Linked DNA regions of Homo sapiens: region 2 is linked to region 1. Evidence: fine-mapped expression QTL. A gene starts in region 1. The other region holds a variant in brackets. All regions are shown on one strand. Distances are from middle to middle. Region 1 holds the start of KLK10 (kallikrein related peptidase 10). Region 2 overlaps SIGLEC9 (sialic acid binding Ig like lectin 9).

The links. PIP is the estimated chance that this variant, and not a neighbour inherited with it, causes the effect. A credible set is the group of variants that fine-mapping cannot tell apart.
Region 2: its variant is the best candidate, but not a certain one, in a credible set for the expression of KLK10 in lung (TOPMed, PIP 0.89).

The regions. Positions count from the first base shown.
Region 1 is chr19:51,017,285-51,021,664 of GRCh38, forward strand. It overlaps KLK10 (kallikrein related peptidase 10), which reads right to left and starts at 2,425. Exons shown (of 6, transcript NM_145888.3): 1 at 2,343-2,425; 2 at 1,759-1,855; 3 at 1-6. The coding sequence starts at 1,846.
Region 2 is chr19:51,126,777-51,131,156 of GRCh38, forward strand. SIGLEC9 (sialic acid binding Ig like lectin 9) reads left to right here. Exons shown (of 7, transcript NM_014441.3): 4 at 254-520; 5 at 1,173-1,263; 6 at 1,638-1,734; 7 at 3,115-3,534. The coding sequence ends at 3,303. Among named protein-coding and RNA genes, the nearest start is that of SIGLEC9, 4.1 kb to the left of the region's middle. RefSeq lists an enhancer at 2,151-2,200. The variant G/A (reference allele first, on the strand shown) is at 2,606.

The DNA.
Region 1 (4,380 bases):
CTGCGGCTGGAGAAAGAAAGGGGACGGAATCAAAGCACGGAGGGCAGGGTCTGGGTTTGGGGTTGGAGCTGGGCTGTGGCACTGGACTGCGTTCGGGGACGGGGGACGCAGCCAGAACGCGAGGGTGGTAGGGAAATATTGGGGGTTTCGCGTGCACCGAAGGGAATGGGAGGAGAAGAAGCGCGTGAAAGTGGAAGGAAGCTGGGATAGGGTAGCGTGGAGTAATGAGACAGAATAGGGTGGGTCTGGAGGGCAGGGACTGAACGCAGCGCGCCTGGAGAGCTGGCTAGAACGTCGCTGGTCGATAGAGGGGCGGGGATTGAACGCGGCGGGGAGGTAAGGGTGCGGGGATAGAACTCGGGGATCGGGGAGAGGAAGGGGTGTGAATAACAAAACGGGATTGAAAACCAGGAGAGGGGTGGGGCGCAGTGGTTTACGCCTGTAATCCCAGCACTTTGGGAAGCCGAGGCGGTTGGACCGCTTGAGCTCGGGAATTCAAGACCAGCCCGGGCAACACAGCAAGACCCAGTCTCTACAAAAACAAACAAACAACAACAACAACAACAAAAAAGTAGTCGCGGAGGCATGCGCCTGTAGTCACAGCTACCTGGGAGGCTGAGGTGGGAGGATCGCTTGAGCCCAGGAGGTGGAGGTTGCAATGAGCCGAGATTGGGCCACTGCACTCCAGTCTGGGCGACAGAGTGAGACCCTGTCTCAAAAAAAAAAAAAAAAAAAAAAAAAGCCGGATGTGGTGGTGCATGCCTGTGGTACCAGCTACTCTGGAGGCTGAGTATCGCTTGAGCCCAGGAGGTCGAGGCTGCAGTGAGCTCTGATTGGGCCACTGTACTCCAGCCACGGAGACAGAGCACTGCCCTGTCTCAAAAAAAAAAAAAAAAAAAAAAGAAGGAAAGAAAAAGAGAGAGAAAGAAAAAAACAAGAAAGAAAGAAGAAAAAATAAGAGAGAAAGTAAAACAAGAAAGAAGAAACAAACGAAAGGAAGGAAGGAAAGGAAGGAAGGAAAAGAAGAACGAAAGAAAGAAAAGAAAGAAAGAAAAAGAAAAAAGAGAGAGAAAGGGAAAGAGGAAGAAAAAAAGTGAGGGGAGAGGGCAAAAAGCGGTAAGGCAAGACTCAGGATAAAACACGGTGGTGTGGCCGGGAGCGGTGGCTCACGCTTGTAATCCCAGCACTTTGGGAGGCCGAGGCAGGCGGATCACGAGGCCAGGAGATCGAGACCACGGTGAAATCCCATCTCTACTAAAAATACAAAAAACTAGCCGGGCTTGGTGGCGGGCGCCTGTAGTCCCAGCTACTCGGGAGGCTGAGGCAGGAGAATGGTGTGAACCCGGGAGGCGGAGCTTGCAGTGAGCCGAGATCGCGTCACTGCACTCCAGCCTGGGCGACAGAGCGAGACTCCGTCTCAAACAAACAAACAAACAAAACAAAACACGGTAGTGTAAAATGGAGCGGGGCCGGGATGGGGCGGCGTAAGAGGAGGAGAAAGAACGCGGCGAAGAGTCCACGGAAGAGCGAGGATCCGGGTGGCAGAAATCGGACAGGGCCTGAGTGGGGCGGGTCACCCAGGGGCCGAGCCAGAAGAAGGGCCCAGCTGACTTGGGGGCGGGCCGTGCTCCGGAGCGCTGGGTGGGTGCTGGGGTCTCGGGGGAGGAGAGGTGCGCGGGGCTTGGTGACGGGAACACATTCTCCTCCCGCCCGTGCCTCCCACCGGCGCCTCTCCCCGCCCCCTGCCCCCGACCTTACCCCAGAGTTGCGCCATCAGCAGCGGCAGCAGCTTCGCCAGAGCCCGGGCGCCAGAGGCGGCGGAGAGGTGGAGGTGCGGAGCTCTCATGGCCAGGATCTGCTGGGGTGTGTGCAGGGGCGGGTTAAAACAGATGCTCCGTTAGAGACCCCCACCTCGCCGCGCTCATCCGCCCAGCCTGGGCCACCCCAGCCCGCAAGCACCCTTTTGACCTGCAGCCGATAACCCCAGGGGCTGGCAGACGGGAGATTCGGGCTGGAACAGCGGTAATGGGCACAATTACCCTAATGACGCCCCTCGCGGCATCTTCCCGTCCTCCCTGTGCCCGAGTGGAGCGCTCTCCGCGCCCCAGCTACCCTGGCTGCAGCCACGCCGCGCCCGAGGTTTCCCCCTCCTTCACGCGCGGGGTGGGGATCCGAGGCTCGGAGCCAGTGGGAGCCTCTTTCTCAACCTCACAGCGGGGGGACTTCCGCGTCCCGCAGGTGGAGAAACCGAGGCTCTAAGCCGGCTCCTGCCTGTGGCCCGGGGGTCCCCACCCATCCTCTCGCAATCCACCCCAACCCGGGTGGGGTGCAGGTAGCTTCACCTGGGAGTCGCCGATAGGAAGGAGGGAGGGGACCCAGACGTGCCTCTGCCCTGCCTGTGGTCTGCCGCTGGTATCCTCTGCCCAGGGACCCCTGGCGGGACCTTCCCTTTTAACCCCAAGGAGTCCGGAAGCTTCTCCACCCTCCCCTACCCCCACCCCCGGGCTCCCTCCCTTTCCCTCTGTCTAATTGTACCGTGGGTGAGGCTGGCACTCCTGGGTCCCAGATTCCTGCTCTGGGAGGGGCCCTGGAATACAGGCTTCTCCCAGTGCCCGAAACGCCCCCTTTTCATCCCTTTTGGAACTGGCTTCCGTGGGGATTCTCCGGGTCCCGGTGCCAAGAAGGCTTCCCAGGCGCGGGGAGAGGGTTCACGTCCCCAGCAAGGCTAGGGGTGGCAGGATGAGAGGCCACTGAGCAAGAGGAAATCAATGGGAAGTGCATACCTAGAGTGACAATGTGAGAAGCCAGACTGTGGAAGAGGAAGGAGGAAGGCCTAGAGATAAAGCAGGTTGAGTAGGAGGGACAGAGGCTGGCTTGAAAAGGGAGATTGTAACAAACCAAGGCTAAAAGAGCCAGAGAGAGAGAGAGAGAGAGAGAGAGAGAGAGAGAGAGGGAGGGAGGGAGGCGCCGAGGCTAAGAGAAACAGAAACAAGGAAAAAGGGAAACCCACGCCCACTCTGTGGCCGTGAGTGAGCTCTGTGTGTGTCCCAGTGACTAGCCCATGTGCGTGTTGGGGGGGGCTGTGGCTCTGCCTCATACCCATGTGTGGCCATCTCACACCCTCCCTGCCATCTGTGTGCCACCAGGTGACACACAGGCCCCTGAATCATAGGAGGTCAAAGCTGTGAGGGGCATCGGCATCACCTCAGCCAACTCCCTCATCTCAGGTGAGGAGTGAGAGGCTCAGAGAGGGCAGAGACTCACAGGAGGTCACACAGCAAGTCCACTTGACAACCAGAAGGCCCTGGTTCCACTCTGGGCTCCTATTGCTCATGCCAGCCACTTCTGCGAGGTGAACAGACCATCCCAAAAGATCCTGAGCTGGCCGGGCGCGGTGGCTCACGCCTGTAATCCCAGCACTTTGGGAGGCCAAGGGGGGGCGGATCACGAGGTCAGGAGTTCGAGACCAGCCTGGCCAACATAGTGAAACCCCATCTCTACTAAAAAGACACAAAAATTAGCTGGGGATGTTGGCACAGGCCTGTAGTCCCAGCTACTAGGGAGGCTGAGGCAGGAGAATTGCTTGAACCTGGGAGGCAGAAGTTGCAGTGAGCCGAGATCACGCCACTGCACTCCAGCCTGGGTGACAGAGCAAGACTCTGTCGCAAAGAAAAAAAAAAAAAAAGATCCTGAGTTCTGGATTCTCTCCGTGGGACATCCTCTTCAGAGGCCATCTAACTCAGTGCTGCTCAGCTGAACTTTCTGCAGTGATGTTTTATATGCACTAGCTAATCCAGCCACCACCAGTCACATGTGGCTATCCAGCCTTGGAGATATAACAAGTGAGACAGAGGAGTTACATTTCTGGCTTTATGTAATTTTAATTGGAAGAGCCAGCTGCGGTTAGTGGCTACCATATTGGCCAGCAGAGGTCTCCACTATCTAATTACCTATCATGGAAGTTGGAGAAAAACAATAAGCTCCTTTGGTTAGGTCTTAGTATGTGCAGGCTAACTGACTTCTTTACTTACTGTGTTATACTTTTGCATGCAGCATTTTACAGGAAAGGAAACAAACAGAGCCTTACTCCAGGAACATCACTTGGTAATTAAGAGATCGCCTTGCTTCAGATCCTTGCTCTCCTAGCCACGTGACTGTGAGCAAGTGACTTTGCTTCTCTGTGTCTGTTTCTTCAACTATAAAATAGGTATGAAAACAGTACCGACCTCACAGGGTTTTGTGAGGATTAAGTTGATACATTTGAAAGTGCTTGGAGGCCAGGCACAGCGACTCATGCCTGTAATCTCACCACTTTTGGAGGCTGAGGAGGACAGACTGCTTGAGCCCAGGAGTTTGAGACTAGCCGGGGCAACATACTGA
Region 2 (4,380 bases), 110 kb after region 1:
AGCCTGTGGGTTAAGTTCCTAAAAGCAAAATGTAGCTACATTATATGTTCTTTCTTATTTTGAAAGATAAGCCCAAACTGTTCTCGATGAAGCGGGGAGAAGTTTACATTCCCAGCAGTGAGTGGTGAAAGTGTGTGTTTCCAGAACTTCAGTCTATGTCTGTGTGTCAGTTGCTGTCATCAGTCTCTTTCTGTATCCTTCCTTTTTCTCCAGATCTATGTATCTCTCTGACCCTCTGTCTCTTTTTCTACAGTATCCACAGTCTTGGGAAATGGCTCATCTCTGTCACTCCCAGAGGGCCAGTCTCTGCGCCTGGTCTGTGCAGTTGATGCAGTTGACAGCAATCCCCCTGCCAGGCTGAGCCTGAGCTGGAGAGGCCTGACCCTGTGCCCCTCACAGCCCTCAAACCCGGGGGTGCTGGAGCTGCCTTGGGTGCACCTGAGGGATGCAGCTGAATTCACCTGCAGAGCTCAGAACCCTCTCGGCTCTCAGCAGGTCTACCTGAACGTCTCCCTGCAGAGTGAGTGCACCAGTATGCTGGGGAGGGGCTGGAGAGGAGAACACACCTCCTCCACCCTTAGTAACTGCTGAGCGTGGACCTTCAGAGAGGAGCTCCGCTCTGGTCTGTGCTCAGCTGTGAGGTCTGGAACTTCCCTGGGACCCACAGCACCACTGTCCTCTTCCTGCCAGGGAAGGGTTGTGGGGTGGGGAGAGGGCAGGAGTGGATCTCAGAGGGGACAGGATGGGGCCGGACAGGTGTGTTTAGGGAGACAAGCGCCTTTCTTTGCAGGGCTGAACTGGAGTCACACAACTGAGATACTTGCTTTGAGCATCAAATTAAAAAAAAGAAAAAGCCCAGCAAGTCAGCAATCAAATGAAATCATATTGCAATGCAATAATCTTTTAAAAAAAGTAAAAATTGAATGCAAAACAAATTCATTAATGGATAAAATATTAAAATTGTGAAAAAAAACCCCAAAAGGAATGGCTGGCACTTGCACGCCTCACTGGCCTCAGGAAGAGTCTCTCCATGTCCTGCTCTCTCTCATTCCTGTTCTTTGTGTCTGGAAAGGGGAAGTGGAAATAGAAGTCTAGGACCCTACAGGAAGTGGGAGGAGAAGAGACCCAATTCTCTATGATATATCACAAAAATAACTCCCATCTGTCAACAGGCAAAGCCACATCAGGAGTGACTCAGGGGGTGGTCGGGGGAGCTGGAGCCACAGCCCTGGTCTTCCTGTCCTTCTGCGTCATCTTCGTTGTGTAAGCATGGACCCTAGAGAGGGAGGGAGGGAGAGCCCTGGGGGAGGACAGGCTGGAAGCTGGATCCCTGAAGCCAGAGCTGGAGGGACCTGGATGGGTCAAGAGCTTGGGGCAAGAAGGAGGTCACAGGTGCATGGTGAGAATTCCATGTGGGCCTGTGTTTGAGGAGCTTTGAGTCTGTGGCAAACCTTGGTACCCACTGTCCAGGAGAAGAGAGCCTCTGTTCTCAACCTTGGGGTCTCTAAGACTGGACCACTGCTTTCCCACCTCAGTCACCCCTGCAGTCCCTTAATAGGAAACACATGGGGGTACCTGGTCTGCCCACCGCACCCCAATCTGACCACACTGAAAGGCTCTCTGGTCTCTTCACTCAGAGTGAGGTCCTGCAGGAAGAAATCGGCAAGGCCAGCAGCGGGCGTGGGAGATACGGGCATAGAGGATGCAAACGCTGTCAGGGGTTCAGCCTCTCAGGTGAGTGATGTGGACTCTCCACAGCCAGCATGTAGCCTGGACACCTCCCACAGGATGACCCCCAGGACTAATCAGCTGGGCGTAGCCAAAGTTACCTCCTCTCTGTTCTTCCTTTCTTCTCTGTAGCCCCAAATCACAATGTTTGGTTGGTTTCCTCCCCTAAGAACAGCTTTTATTGTCTCTGCTCCCTATCCTGACCCTTCATTGCTGAGGCCTGAGGATCTCTGTCTTTTGTTCCCTCACCTGTCTGCCTGTCTCCTCTCCTTTCCTGCCTGGGGGGACTGTCCAGAAGACATCATCGTCCAGTTCCTCTGCATTTGAACAGCTGTTCCCCCACCCCTCAATACCGTTTAGAGCAGAAGCCAGCAAATACTATCTGTCAGGGACAGATAGAAACTATTTTCGGCTTCATGGGCCACACAGTCTCATTGCAGCTCCTCAAATCTGCTGTTGTAGCAAGAAAGAAGCCATATACCCTGTGTAAACAAATGAATATGGCTGTGTGCCAATAAAACTATTCACAAACATAAAGAGTGGGCTGGATATGACTCAGATACTGTAGTTTGACAACCCCTGATCTAGAGTAAAAATCCCAAACTCTATAGCCTGCAGCAGTGCACATTCTGACTTTTTTTGTTTTTTTTTTTTTTTGTTGTTGTTGTTTTTGAGACAGAGTCTTGCTCTGTCGCCCAGGCTGGAGTGCAGTGGTGCGATCTCTGCTCACTGCAACTTCCACCTTCCGGGTTCAAGCCATTCTCCTGCCTCAGCCTCCGGAGTAGCTGGGACTACAGGCGCCTGCCACCACGCCCAGCTAATTTTTTTGTATTTTTAGTAGAGACGGGGTTTCACTGTGTTAGCCAGGATGGTCTCA[G/A]TCTCCTGACCTTGTGATCTGCCCACCTTGGCTTCCCGAAGTGCTGGGATTACAGGCGTGAGCCACTGTGACCGGCCACATTCTGACCTTTTAAGCACCTACCTCTCCACTAGGGCAAGAACAAGGGTGAAGTGAGTGAGGCTGTTGCCTCAAGTGCATTTTTTCGTTTGTTTGTTTTTGTTTTTTGAGATGGAGTCTCGCTCTGTCACCCAGGATGTAGTGCAGTGGCACAATCTTGGCTTACTGCAACCTCTGCCTCCTAGGTTCAAGCGATTCTCCTGCCTCAGCCTCCTGAGTAGCTGGGATTAAAGGTGCACACCACCACACCTGGCTAATTTTGTATTTTTAGTAGAGACAGGGTTTCACCATGTTGGCCAGGCTGGTCTCAAACTCCTGACCTCAGGTGATCCGCCTACCTCAGCCTCCTGAAGAGCTGGGATTACAGATGTGAGCCACCGCGCCCCATCCTCACTGTCTGCTCTGACTCACTTCTCTCTCCCATGTCTCAGGGGCCCCTGACTGAACCTTGGGCAGAAGACAGTCCCCCAGACCAGCCTCCCCCAGCTTCTGCCCGCTCCTCAGTGGGGGAAGGAGAGCTCCAGTATGCATCCCTCAGCTTCCAGATGGTGAAGCCTTGGGACTCGCGGGGACAGGAGGCCACTGACACCGAGTACTCGGAGATCAAGATCCACAGATGAGAAACTGCAGAGACTCACCCTGATTGAGGGATCACAGCCCCTCCAGGCAAGGGAGAAGTCAGAGGCTGATTCTTGTAGAATTAACAGCCCTCAACGTGATGAGCTATGATAACACTATGAATTATGTGCAGAGTGAAAAGCACACAGGCTTTAGAGTCAAAGTATCTCAAACCTGAATCCACACTGTGCCCTCCCTTTTATTTTTTTAACTAAAAGACAGACAAATTCCTACCTCTCTGTACCTTGGTTTCCTGCTCTGTAAAACAGGAATGAGAAGCCCTACTTGCAAGGTTGTGGTCACCATTCCAGGAGTCACATCCCGTTAGAGCTCCTGGCACAGGTGTATGCCGAGCACTGATGGATCGCTGTGCTTTGAACACAAAGGTCCTGCTGGGAACCTCTCCTGATTCTGGTGGCAACTAGTACTTATATGTCTGTGTCACTTGCCTGCAAAATAGCGATTCTGCAACTTTCCAGGAAATAACCTCAGCCTGCAAATCAGGTCTAGGTAGCATCTGGATCCTGCCCACCTCTTCAGCCTCATCTGCCCACCCTGTGACTGCTAGGCCGCCTTACTCTCTGCAGTCTACGTATTGTGCACAGTCCAGTGGGAATCTTTAGGACACACTGAGCTCTCTCCGCACTGCTCACAGCCCATCCATGGCTCCTGGATCCTGAACCTCCCATCACATCCTCTTCGTGACATCACTCTCCCACTTCAGTCCACTCCTCCATCTTCACCACTTAACCCACTGGTCCCTCTGGTCTTTTCCAAATCATTTGCAACATGCCCTGTTGGTTCATACCTCAGTCCTTGCACACTGGGGACCCTCCTCCTAGAACGCCCTCCTCCTGGGCCTTCTTCTGTCTCTGTCTTTGAAAATGGAGTTCAAGGATTGGACTTCTGGGTTGAGCTGAGGGAGAGAGTGAAGCAGCAGCTCATGATCTCCCTCCTCTAAAGCCAAACCCAGGGAATGAGAAACGTTTCCAAAGGGGCACAGGATCATCTGGCAAATTAAACAACATGATCCAAAAAAATTTACCTACATGCAGCACCCGAACGAGGAAAGGGACATC